Regions from separate parts of the Homo sapiens genome. Here regions 1, 3 and 4 are each reported to be linked to region 2. Evidence: microRNA targets listed by miRTarBase, many of them from high-throughput screens and not tested one by one. Region 2 holds a microRNA gene; each other region holds the end of a gene's coding sequence.
Evidence for each region. Region 2 holds the annotated microRNA hsa-miR-3160-5p (GGCUUUCUAGUCUCAGCUCUCC, at 1,719-1,740, opposite strand). A microRNA usually pairs through its seed, bases 2 to 8, with sites in the 3' UTR of a target mRNA and lowers its output. Matches are read on the target gene's strand: a 7mer-m8 pairs with bases 2 to 8, a 7mer-A1 pairs with bases 2 to 7 and ends in A, and an 8mer does both.

Region 1 (3,000 bases), not on the chromosome of region 2:
TATAAATAGCCAAGTATCTGTTTTTTCCCTTGCCTTTCTAAATCTGTGATTACATACATAGTATAAGCTTAGGGAAACATTTATTGGTGTGACAATGCAGAAGTTAACTAAACTGATTTAAGTCTTTGAAAGTTTTTGAAATAAAGATTTTATCATTTATTTTCTAGCTGTCACCACTGACTAAAGAAGAGAAAACTGCGGCAGAGCAATTCAAATTTCACATGCCAGATTTATGAAGAAATGGACTTGGAAAGGAAATTCTAACAGAGAAGAGCTTAATTCCGGAGAAATTTAGGAAGATGTCTTGTTAACCCTTGATGTCTAGAGATTGGGGGCTGGTGAAGGGGGTTTGGCTTCAATGACTGGATAATGATATCTTTCATGAGAGAGATTATAAGAAGAAGGGCAGATAATATATGAATAAAGTTCAGCCAAAAGGATCAAATGAGAATAAAACGATTTAAATATATGTACACACGCATGCACACACACACTTAGTCTTGTAATTTCAGGCCAGAAATTCTCAACACTATTTTGCATCTGTTTTCTTTTTCTAAGTCATGATAATATAGATGTTCTGGTCTATCATAAAAGAATGTTTATGTACATTTCAGTCATTCGGTATGTGGCTTTGTAAATTAAAGTATAGGCAAAACATTTGTGTTATACATGATATATAATTTCATTTTGTAAATGTTGATTGCACATGTGGTCACATTATTGTTGAGACTGCTTTTATGTGACCTGTAGTCTCCCACAGAACCTAAAGTAATAAGCTGGCTTTTCTGTGATAGCCACGTTTGCGTATTTCTTTCCCTATTTCCCTTGCCTGCTAATGTTGAACAGCATGAACTTGCTTTCTGATGCTGTTTTAGACTGTCCCTGTTGTATCTCAATAATATCTTTGTTTTCCTTCAGCCTTTATTACTATAATTGTTCATTCTACATGAAAGCTAGGAAACTGAAATTAGAAGAGCACTTATCTGCTACTTGCCAGTTTTGCGTGAGTGTGTTATATGTATGTGTCAATTTCCCTTTAAAATAACTATTTATTTTAAAATAACTATTGGCAATAAGGAAACTGTTCAAAGTAGAGGCAGATCTTGATAGAAAGATGTTAATCACAGGGTTGTTTATAATAGCAATATACATACACATTTGGCTAGTACTAGGTGAATAGGAAAATAAATCATGCTGTATGTATACAATAAGAGGTCAAGTTGCCAATAAATTATTACTGTTAATGTTCTGGGAAATGCTGAAACTATGCTAAGTGGGGGAGAGGGAAAGCAGGTATTGCAGTTTTGTAGTGAAGATTGGGCTTTGGAGTCATATCTGAGATGTAAGTAGCAGCTTTTAAATTCTAGCTATGACCCTGTGCAGATCACTTAACTTTTGAGTGTCAGGATGTTTGGAAGGACAAGACAGGAAAGTGTTTTAATACAGGGTTCAGTATTTAGTAAGCCTTCAATAAGTGATATTACATACATGTAATAAAAACTAAGCATTGAAAGGACTAGGAAAAATGCATCAAATGTTAGTTCTGCAGGTTATAGAATTATACTTTTATGTAATTTTAAAATTTCAGTTATGAACATGTTTGTCCATTAACAAACTTATAATAGCTGAAAAACAGGGTTGTGAGAACAGCTTCAGTTAAAATTGTCCTGTCTAGTTTGAATATTTCAAGAACAGAAAGCCTTTTTTTTTTTTTTTTTTTTTTTGAGACGGAGTCTCACTCTGTTGCCCAGGCTGGAATGCAGTGGTACGCTCTCAGCTCACTGCAACCTCCACCTCCCAGGTTCAAGCAGTTCTCTGCCCCACCCTCCCGAGTAGCTGGGATTACAGGCGCCCGCCACCACGCCCGGCTATTTTTTTGTATTTTTAGTAGAGATGGGGCTTCACCATCTTGACCAGGCTGGTCTTTAACTCCTGATGGTGATCCACCCACCTCGGCCTCCCAAAGTGCTGGGATTACAGGCATGAGCTACCGTGCCTGGCCCCCTTTTTTTTAATTACAGAGAAATAAGTTACACCTTAGTATCAGATATTAATTTTCTTCAGTGTTCAGGCAATTAGTATTTAGAAAGCTCTTGTCATGAGATGGCTCTGGGATGTGATGATGATTGTTGGGATTGAAAAAACGGTAGTATCATGGAGAGATCATAATAAATTCTTAGTATTAAAAGTGGTTTTGCTTTCAGTTAGGGAGAAAAATTAGATTGTACTATTTTTCCTCTATGATTTCCTTCAGTTATCTTCCAAATGTTGTTTTTTCCCCACAGCCCCCTTAACATTGTTCTCTATGCACTTCTCAATACATTTTCATTTGTTTCTCAAGCCTCTTTGTGGATGACTCCTAAATATAACTTCTTCCACTAGCTCTAGATCCGTATTTCCAATAAAATCCCCTACCTGAATATTCAAGTTAAACATGTCCAGAATACTTACTGATTTTATTGTTAATAGCCACTATTCTGTTGTCTGGAATTAAAACCTGTATAACTAATTTGCATCCCTTTATCTTCTTAGTCAATAAAACCTACAATCCTCTTTCTAAAATGGTCATAGTATACAACCTCTACATTATCTTCACACCTCCTTAATTTAGATCTTTTGTTTCTCATTTGGATTATAATTGTTTTCTCCTATGTGACTATAGTGTCTTTATGTCTTAAGTTATAAATAATACATGTTTAAGAATTTAAAAATCACAGGCATGGCCGGGCATGGTGGCTCACGCCTGTAATCCCAGCACTTTGGGAGGTCGAGTCGGGCAGATCACAAGGTCAAAAGATGGAGACCATCCTGGCCAACATGGTGAAACCCTGTCTCTACTAAAATTACAAAAATTAGCTGGGTGTGGTGGCACGTGCCTGTAGTCCCAGCTACTCGGGAGGCTGAGGCAGGGGAATCGCTTGAACCCAGGAGGCGGAGGTTGCAGTGAGCTGAGATTGCGCCACTGCACTCCGGCCTGGCGACAGAGTGAGACTCTGTCTC
Region 2 (3,113 bases):
ATTGTCAAAACTTGGAAGCAACCAAGATGTTCTTCATTTAAGAGATGAATGGATAAACTGTGGCACATCCATACAATGGAATATTATTCATGCTAAAAGAAATGAGCTATCAATCCACAAAAAGACATGGAGGAACCTTAAGTGCATGTTACTAAATGAAAGAAGTCAAAGGCTACATACTATAGGATTCCAACTGTATGAGATTCTGGAAAAGGAAAAGTTATAGAGACAGAAAAATGATGGGTAGTTGGTAGGGGTTGGTTTGCAGGGAGGCAGAGACGAACAGGTGAGCACAAGATTTTTTTTTTTTTTCTTTTCTTGAGAGAGGGTCTCACTCCATTGCCCAGGCTGGAGTGCAGTGGTGCAATCACGGCTCACGGAAGCCTCAATTTTCTGGGCTCAGATGATCCTCCCACCTCAGCCTCCCGAGTAGCTGGGGCTACAGGTGTGTGCCACCATGACCAGCTGATTTTTTTTGTATTTTTTGTAGAGATGGGGTTTCACCATGTTGCCCAGCCTTGTCTCCAACTCCTGAACTCAAGAGATCCACCTGCCTTGGCCTCCCAAAGTGTTGGGATTATAGGCATGAGCCACCATGTACAGCCACAAGGAGATTTTTTAAGCAGTAAAGTTATTTTCTATGTTACTACAATGTTGGATACATGGCACATACATTTGCCAAAACCAGTGAAATTTACAACACCAAGCATGAACCCTAATGTAAACGCATACTTTGAGTGATAATGATGTGTCTACGTTGGTTCATCAGCTGCAGCAAATGTACCACACTGGTGTGGACAGTGGGGAAGCCTGTGGGTGTAAGGGGAGGGAGTATATGGGAACTGTCTGTATTTTCCACTCAACTTTTAATAAACCTAAAAAAGAGGGAGGGGCCACGACTTTCATTCACATTCTAGGAGACAGTGGGAACAGCAGCTGTTCATAAGGACAATACTAGTCATGGTAGTTCATATCTATCATATAACCACAGAAATTCCTTTCATTGAGGCTTAGAGCAAAAGAAGAAATAAAGATTATTCTGATGACAGACAAAACAAGGAGGAAAAGAAGCTTAAATCCAGTGATCCTGGCTAACTATCAGCCAACAACAATGGCAAAAACTAAGCTGCCAAGTCTCATTCCAGAGTCAGGTCTTCAACTTGTAGGCCAGAGCTCCCAGAATGTGTCTAGGGATAAAATCATAATAATCATCACAGTCACATGATAGGTGAGCTCTGCCAAGCCTAATAGCCTCTGTGCATCTCTCTACCTTTGCTTCTCTCAGAAACTCTTCTCTTCTGTTGCTTGGAAAGAATTAGGAATCTTTTTTCAAAACAGCTTCACAGCTTCTCTCTAAGATTTGTTCTAGGAGAAGGGAAATGAAAAGTATGATTCAACAGTTCAGTGAAGATACTGAACAATGGGAATCATTAGCAAATCTATCAGAAAAGCTAATTCGGGGAAGGTAAAAAAGGGCAAGTTGCAAAGAAGGAAATGATTAAATTACATTTCAGTCCTGAAAAATCTGTTTAACTTGAGACTTTCTAATTCAGAATGGCCATCTCTGACTGTGTGCTGCTGGGAAGATGAAATAAGAATGGGGTTGGGGATGTAAACACTCATCATCCTGGAGACACAATTACTATCTTTCTGCTTGGCTGTTATATGAACCTGCCCTGGGCTTTCTAGTCTCAGCTCTCCTGACCAGCTGAGCTGGAGGAGAGCTGAGACTAGAAAGCCCAGGGCAGGTCCAACTGAAAAACTTATCAACTTTTCAAACAGATTGACAGTTGCTTTGGGCTGGAGGGATGTGAGAGAGGGAAAGGGGAAGTGACTGCTGATGTGTATGGGGTTTTTTAGGAGGTGATAAAGATGATATGAAATATCTAGATAGAGGTGATGACTGCACAACTCTATATACTAAAAGCCATTGAAATGTATACTTTAAATAGGTGGCCTGTATGGTAGGTGAATCATATCTCAATAATGCTGTTATTAAGAAAACACTATTCAAATAAATGTCTATCAATTTGTGAAGTAAAAAATGGTAATCCTATTTTTTGGATCCATTTCATTTCCTTAATAATTAAGAGTATTGGTGAACATCTTTTCATTTGTTTACCAGCTCACTGTGTATCTTTTAGATGGTCTACTAGTGTCTTATGTACATTTTAAAAACCTTTGTTATTTTAAGGTTTTTTGTTGTTGTTGTTGTTGTTGTTTGTTTTTTAGATGGGGCCTCACTATGTTGCCCGGCTTGCCTTGAACTCCTGGCCCTTAAGTGATCCTCCTGCCTCAGACTTCCCAGTAACTAGGACAACAGGCACATGCTACCCTACCTAGCTTTGGTTACTTTAACTTTTCTCTTATGGATTATCTGAGCTCTCTGTAAATAAATACACTGGCTTCTGTTTACAAAAAATAATTCTCAGAGCAAGGGAACCATCTTCCCTTTCTGAGTATATCTGCATGGCATCCTAGGAAGAACACTTAATCTTCTTTCCAGAAAGCTTCATTCAAATGCAGTCTTAAAATCTGTCCTAAGAAAGGGGTATAACTAAGTACTCAGTCACACTCACTCTAATCATCATTTAATCTAATCTGAAATCACAGTCAATGTATCCTATAGCCTGGTACCTGGAAAAAGTCCCTGATGACAAATAAGAAGACTTCTTCCATGCTTAGAAGTGTCCCAAGTTTCTCTGAGTTCTCATTTATGATTCTGACATTGAGAAAAATGCCCAAATATATATGTGTGTCTGTCTGTTTAAAATTATAGCTTTACTGAGATATAACTTACAATTCACCTATTTTAAAGTATACAATTCAAGGTTATTAGCATATCCGCACAGTTATGTAACCATCAGCAAATAAATTTTACAACCACCATCATTACTGTCTAATTTCAGGCATTTTCATCTCCCCTAAATACCGTACCCATTAACAGTCACTCCCTTTTACTCTGTCCCACTCCTGCCCTAGCCCTAGGCAATCACTAATTGCTTCTCCTGGACATTTCATGTAATGAAATCATATGGTAGGTGGCCTTCTGTGTCTGGCTTCTTTCACTCAGCATAACATTTTCAAAGTTTATCCACGCTTATTGCATGTTT
Region 3 (3,113 bases), not on the chromosome of region 2:
ATCTAAACTTTTCTGAACCAGTTTTATCTTTTTAGCCTGTTCTGCCTCAGGGGATAATGAGTCCCTACGTGCCACTCACACACTCACTATATTACAGCCCCAACAGTCTGAAAATTATTTCTTTTAAGCTTTGAGAACTTTGCCTTAGTTCTCATGTTCTGGGATGTGTCTGATCCACAAGTGCTGTGTACTTTTCAAATCTTTACCTGTTGGAGGGGATGAAGTGTGGATTAAACAAGTAACCAGAGTTGGTTATTGAGGAAATGTTTCCTCGGAGGAGCTCTATTTGAGGGAAGCATGTGCACTGAGACTTTGTTTACAATGTACCTGTTATCTCCCACCTCCCTCCCCCAGTCACCCCTATACACTTAAGACATTCTCCTCACTCCTCTGCCCCTTTTTTTCTGCCCTGTGTGTTTGTACAGGGGGAGCAGTACCATCAGGCTTGGAGGAGAACCTGTGTAAGATCTGCATGGACTCACCCATTGACTGTGTTCTTCTGGAGTGTGGCCACATGGTAACCTGTACCAAGTGTGGCAAGCGCATGAATGAATGTCCCATCTGCCGGCAGTATGTAATCCGAGCTGTGCATGTCTTCCGGTCCTGAGAGCTTGCATCGGTTTCTTCAGTGCCTTACAGGGAAATAGCCTGGGGTGTCTGGGCTCAGGGTTGGCCAGCTTGCAGAGGAGCAAGCTAGTAGAAATATTGCAGGGTTCCCAAAACCAGGTCAAGCAAGATGCCATGTCACCCCTGAGCATGCCTGTCTTCCCAGGGGTGTACCTCTTGGCTGGCAAAGCCCAAGGCCAGTGGGAACTTGTATAAATCACATGGGTATGTTCTTGGTTCAGTGATCTTGGAGTGATGATGGTAACTGATGAACAGAGAACTTTCCAGAACTTGGGTCCTGTCTTCCTCCCTGAACCTAGACAGTTTCACCCCTCCTCCTGTACCCAACCCATCCCCACCCCATATGGGAGATGCTTGCCCATGTGTTTCATCAATCAGAAGTCCTCCTCCCCAGCACATTCGGATTTAAATTTCTGGTCTCTCCGGCTTTCTGTGCTTTAACTATCTTTGCTAAAGTCTCTTGCTACATTGCCTAAATCCATTTGTTTCTTTGGACCAAAAATGTTAGTTTACCAGACCGATAGTGGTCCTTAGGACAGATTTTAGACCAGTAAACTTATCTTTGGTGAGAAATGAAATACAAATGCTATAGAAAAATTTCAAAGTTGTTAAAAGCCACTTCATTAAATGCTGGGATTGGAAGCTGTTGGTCTCCTGACCTGACTCTGGGAGCCAACAAAACATCAGGCTCCCAAACTGCTGGGAAATTTGTTTCTGTCTGCAAGGGATAGTGCGTGCATAATCCCTGCTGCTGCTTCTCTTGGGACCTGATTTGCACCATCCTTAGTTTATGCGGAAAGGGGAAGCAATGGGTGGAGGCAGTGGCCTTCTCCTTAATTTTGGCTTGGCTTCTGATCCTTTTCCCAACTAGAAGTCTTAAGCCACTTTTCGCTGAAAATGAAATCCCTCCCTTATCCATGGTAGTTTTAAATTTGGTTTCATTGAAGAAATAGATTTAGGCAAAGAGCCTGTGCTCTTCTCTGGCCAGACTGCTGTTGAAGTTCCTGGAGAGCAAATGTTAAGACAGAGCACTTAAGAGCTTTCAGGAGGTACTGAATGAGACTGGATTCTGTTGTAAGCCGACAGTTCAAGTCTTTATTTCCCAGGTTGGTGGGGAGTGAGGAGACCCTACTTTCATTCCCTTTCCTAGCCCACTGATTTTTGGGGGCAGGTCAGGGAGAAAGCATTTTTTTTTTTTTTTTGAGTCTCACTCTGTTGCCCAGGCTGGAGTGCAGTGGTACAGTCTTGGCTTACTGCAACCTCCACCTCCCAGGTTCAAGCTATTCTCCTGCCTTAGCCTCCAGAGTAGCTGGGATTATAGGCGCCCACCACCACACCAGGCTAATTTTTGTATTTTTAGTAGAGACGGGGTTTTACCATGTTCACCAGGCTGGTCTTGAACTCTTGACCTTATGATCCGCCCGCCTCAGCTTCCCAAAGTGCTGGGATTACAGGCGTGAGCCACCACACCCAGCAGGAGAAACCATTTTCTAGGCTCTTTAGGAAGGACCATGCAATGAGTAGGTGATGTATTTGAGCCCTCACAGTCTTTACACCCCTAGAGGAGCTGGAGGACTTAAGAGTTTGCTGCAGAAGCGTGGCCAAGCACAAAACACATGATCAGGAAAGCAGAGTGTTTTCCCATTACCAATGGATGAACTATGCAAACCCTAAACGCCTTGGCAGACACCTCCCACCCCTTACCCCTCCCATGCAGCTGAAAAATCTGAGACTAGAACCAATCATGACTCTGGATGGCAGAGGGAAACCTCTAAAGGGACTTATTACATTGGTACAGACATATTTATGCTTTCTTCCATCACCAACCACTAAACCCCTTTGGAGGAATGAAATAACTGCATAAACTAGTCAACTGAACACTGGGCCACTTACCTCAATGTTATACAAAGTCCTGGATGATTTGATTCTGAACCACAGCCTTTGCAGGAGTTGGGGGAATCAGATTTGCTCATGAAGACATCCCTTTCCACTTTTGTCATGGGCAGTAAATACTATAGTTTACAATGCCTACCAATTAGCAAAGGATCATTCATTCAGCTACTCAGTTCCTCTGTAAAACAGGTCTATGTATGTGCAATTCAGCTAAGATCTAGCAGTAACTTAAGGGCAGAAGCTGGCTCTCTACTTACAACCTGCTTTCTCTGCTGAAGCCTTACCTCCTCTTCAGTTTCCCTCCTAGACACAAATCGAAAATAATATACTGATAGCTGGTTAGTAACCTCAGTAAGAATTAAAACTGAGGTTGTTTACTCATTTTGCCTTTAAATCTTTTATCCCCTTTTGGTGAAGGTTTCCCTTTAGGAAAAAAGGTGTCAAACAACCCTGATTTTTTTTTTTTTTGCATCATTTTTATTACACCAAATTAAAGTTGGGAGTTCCAAGATCCCATTCCAGTTAATATTTAACCAAGGTCTAAAATTTGATTTTTTTTAAATCTTTGAATCCTCCCTTCTGCCCCTCATGGA
Region 4 (3,113 bases), not on the chromosome of region 2:
CTTTGTGCAGCCTTGGCCCCATTTGCCAACTTTCGACTCCAACCCCCACCTAAGTTGCAACTCCACTGTGTCAATTCATCACTGTAGCTCATAAGCCTCTGGGCTGTTTACATCTTTTTGATACCCCTGTGAGGTTCCTGGGGGACAGGAGGCTGGGGTACAGGCCTGACCCTCCTGGACGCTGGGTTAAGTGATGAATTTTGGGACTGATGTGCCTCCTTCTGGGCCAACCCCAGGGTGTTCCAGGCTTAGAGCCTTCAGGGAGAAGGCCAATAGCCCACTCACCTTTGGCCTCTCAAATCCCATCCATAAAAAACAGCAGAAAAAAAAAGGAGATGCACAGAAATAATTTAGGAGATCCCCCCAACACACACACACACACACACACACACACACACACACACACACACACACACAAAACCTCTGTATAAATAAATAATTCAATACTGCTAATGGCGAGAAAGAGAGACAGTCATCAAATAAATAAATAGATAAATAAATAAAATAAATAAAAAGGTTTGCTAGGAGCCCCAGGCAAAATGGTCCCCTAGAGTTGTCTTGATGAAGGCAGTCCGAACGTGAGGTTCTGATGCCTCTCACAGCTGTCCTGCTAAGAAGGTTTTTGGTGGCTCTGGGAAGCCTTTGTCTCCATGGAGGGAGACTGAAGTCCAGTCTGGGTTCCTGGGCAGGGACGAGGGTTATTTACAGTGGCTGTACTTGCCCTCCCCGGGGCACCTGCCCCTGTCCCAGGCACCTGCCATCTGGCCTTCTGCAGTGACAGCACTGGCATCCATTAGTCTTTGTGGGCAGGGCTTAGGTCTGGGCCAGAGGCCCGGTATGGGGAGGCTGGGTCGTCCACTGCTGCCCGGGGCCCTCACTCCTGTCTTCTGATGGAGGAAGGGCTGTCGTGGTGGTGGTTGCATGGCAGTCTCTAGCCCCATGGGTTGATAGGATGGGAAAGATTGGGTAGGGAGACGTCACTGCTTCCAAGAAAAAGGACTATTTTCCAAATGTTTTCCCTGGGGTGGGAGGGATAAAGAATGTTTGGCCCTTGCTTCCCCATAACCCAAAATATCCAAAAGCTGGGACCGGTCCTCTCTCCCTCGCTCCCTCCGTGCCCTGTCCTGCTGCTGTTGCCACCACAAACTTGAAACTCACCCACAAGCCTCCGGAAAGCCAGTCAGCTGGTGAGGGGGATGCCCAAGAGTTTATTTTAAGGATCTTATTCCTCACCTCCCCGTTCTTAGCGCCTTCTGTGGATGAAGCAGCTGGTGGTATTTGTGGATCGGAGATCAGCTTACCCTCTCTGCCCAGCCCCAGCCAGGGGGGACTTGGGGTGAGGGCAAAAATAAAGGTGGGTCTTTCCCAAGCTGACAAGAAACCTCAGAAGCCAGCAGGAGCCCAAGACATGGCATATCCAAGCCCCTCTCCCCTGCACTCTGGATTCGGGTCTTTTCCCCCAAACCTGAGCTGCTGTGCCCCATCCTGGCAAAATTCCTGAGAGGCAAGGGGAGTGGCTTAAGCTGAAGGGTGGGTGGGTAGGTGCCAGGCTGCACTGGGTGGCATCCAGGGCGTGGCAGCCTGGGCAGAGGGGAGGGGGCTGGCAGGCGCCAACCGGAGGGTAAGGCCAGACTGGCTGGCGCTGGGGCCTGGCAACTGGCCATGGCACTGGGGAATGTTCAGCAGATGGTCCCGTGGAATTAAGTTGGTGCCAGCTAGTGGGGCTGAGGCATATTTGGGAAGTGGGGCTGGAGACCAACCTGTCCTGACTCTTCCACTATCTCCTTTCTCGTGAGGTTGCAGGGCCCCTGTGAATGGCCAAGAGGTGTTTTGTGTCAGCCATGCAGTGGCCTCTTCACAGCTGGGATCTGCTGGGCTCTGTCCCCTTACCATGCTGAGGTATTGGGAGCAGCAGCTGAACCCTTCCGTTTTTCTATCTATCATCTTAACCAACTCCTATCTCCTGACACCTCCCACCAAGTCAAACGTCCCCATCTGGTATTCAAGGATATCCCTTCTTCTAGGACCCAAATGTCTTCCAGCCTTTGCTTGGGCCTGTTTGAGGAAGTTAAAGGCCTGACCCCGTTATCTTGAACCTGAACTGCCATTGGTCTCCTCTTTCACCCCTCTCAGACATGGGGGTCCATCCACGTGCAGCCATGAAGTTGGACTAGTGGGGCATCCGGGGAGGTGGGGAGAATTACCACGGGCCTCCTGTGAGCAGTGGAGGAGAAGAACTGTCTCCACATTTTCCTGGCCAGGGCTCAATTTTTGAGTCACAGACCCATTGCTTCTCACAAAACCTTGAAGTTTTCTTTTCTTTCTTCTTTTTTTGTGCCACAAGATGATGGTTCTTTCCATATGCCCAGGCCTGAGCTGGGCCCCAGGATGATGCTGGTAGAGGCTCCTAGCAGGCTGATCTAGAGAGTGAAGCCCCCTTACCCTCTTCTCCTCTTCCCCTAGGCAAGCAGGAAGGACAAGGTATAGGAGCCCTCACTATTTGTCACCAAGAAGGCGGGGAGGGCAGGTGGTTGGGGGAGGCTGGCAGCGCGAAGGGGCCCCCACGGGCAGCTGGCTCAGGGGCACTTAGCGCCTCGTGCTGGAGTAGCTGTCTGCTGAGCTGTAGCTCCGGCTCTGGCTCCTGCTCCGGCTCCGGCTCCGGCTCCTGCTCCGGCTCCGGCTGCGGGAGCCCGGACTAGGGCTGCGGGAGCTAGAGCTGCTGCTCGTGCGGGTCCGGCTCCGTCTCCGGCTCCGGCTCCGACTCCGGCTCCGGGAGTAGCTGCGGCTGGCCGAGCGGCTACTGCTGCTGCTGTACCAGGAGGAGGTGCTGCTGAGGCTGCCGGATGAGGAGGGGCTGGGCCGATAGTAGGGGATGGGGCGTTTCCGGGCACTGCAGAGACCAGAGAGAGGAGGGATGAGGGCCGGCCCCTCCGTGCCTCCCCGCAGCGAGCCCCAGTCTTGTCCCAAGGGAAACCAATATCCTCCCTTTCCCCAGTCCCTTAGGAAAAAATACTCCCTTTCCACTTCTCTTGCAGTGCTGAGAACACATCAAAGTAAAAGTCTCAGCTTAGTGCTAGTATGTCTTGAAAAATGATTATCTCACTTTTTTCTTT

Region 1: miRTarBase lists SKA2 as a target of hsa-miR-3160-5p. Seed matches in the 3' UTR shown: 7mer-A1 at 1,286-1,292, 7mer-m8 at 1,694-1,700 and 7mer-m8 at 2,085-2,091.
Region 3: the mRNA of RFFL is a reported target of hsa-miR-3160-5p. Seed matches in the 3' UTR shown: 8mer at 1,806-1,813 and 7mer-A1 at 2,252-2,258.
Region 4: the mRNA of SRRM4 is a reported target of hsa-miR-3160-5p. The part of its 3' UTR that is shown has no 7-base or 8-base seed match.

Annotation. Positions count from the first base shown.
Region 1 is chr17:59,109,513-59,112,512 of GRCh38, reverse strand. SKA2 (spindle and kinetochore associated complex subunit 2) reads left to right here. Exons shown (of 4, transcript NM_182620.4): 4 at 168-2,656. The coding sequence ends at 236. The region is part of intron 1 of LOC124904039 (a long non-coding RNA gene); the gene reads right to left. Among named protein-coding and RNA genes, the nearest start is that of TRIM37, 4.1 kb to the right of the region's middle.
Region 2 is chr11:46,450,138-46,453,250 of GRCh38, forward strand. It overlaps MIR3160-1 (microRNA 3160-1), which reads right to left and starts at 1,752; the gene lies at 1,668-1,752. All of the region lies in intron 11 of AMBRA1 (autophagy and beclin 1 regulator 1), which reads right to left. MIR3160-2 (microRNA 3160-2) reads left to right here and starts at 1,670; the gene lies at 1,670-1,750.
Region 3 is chr17:35,009,462-35,012,574 of GRCh38, reverse strand. It overlaps RFFL (ring finger and FYVE like domain containing E3 ubiquitin protein ligase), which reads left to right. Exons shown (of 7, transcript NM_001017368.2): 7 at 426-3,113. The coding sequence ends at 607. It overlaps LIG3 (DNA ligase 3), which reads right to left. Exons shown (of 20, transcript NM_013975.4): 20 at 2,832-3,113. It overlaps RAD51L3-RFFL (RAD51L3-RFFL readthrough), which reads left to right. Exons shown (of 7, transcript NR_037714.1): 7 at 426-3,113. Among named protein-coding and RNA genes, the nearest start is that of LIG3, 31 kb to the right of the region's middle.
Region 4 is chr12:119,156,272-119,159,384 of GRCh38, reverse strand. It overlaps SRRM4 (serine/arginine repetitive matrix 4), which reads right to left. Exons shown (of 13, transcript NM_194286.4): 13 at 1-2,890. The coding sequence ends at 2,587. Among named protein-coding and RNA genes, the nearest start is that of HSPB8, 21 kb to the left of the region's middle.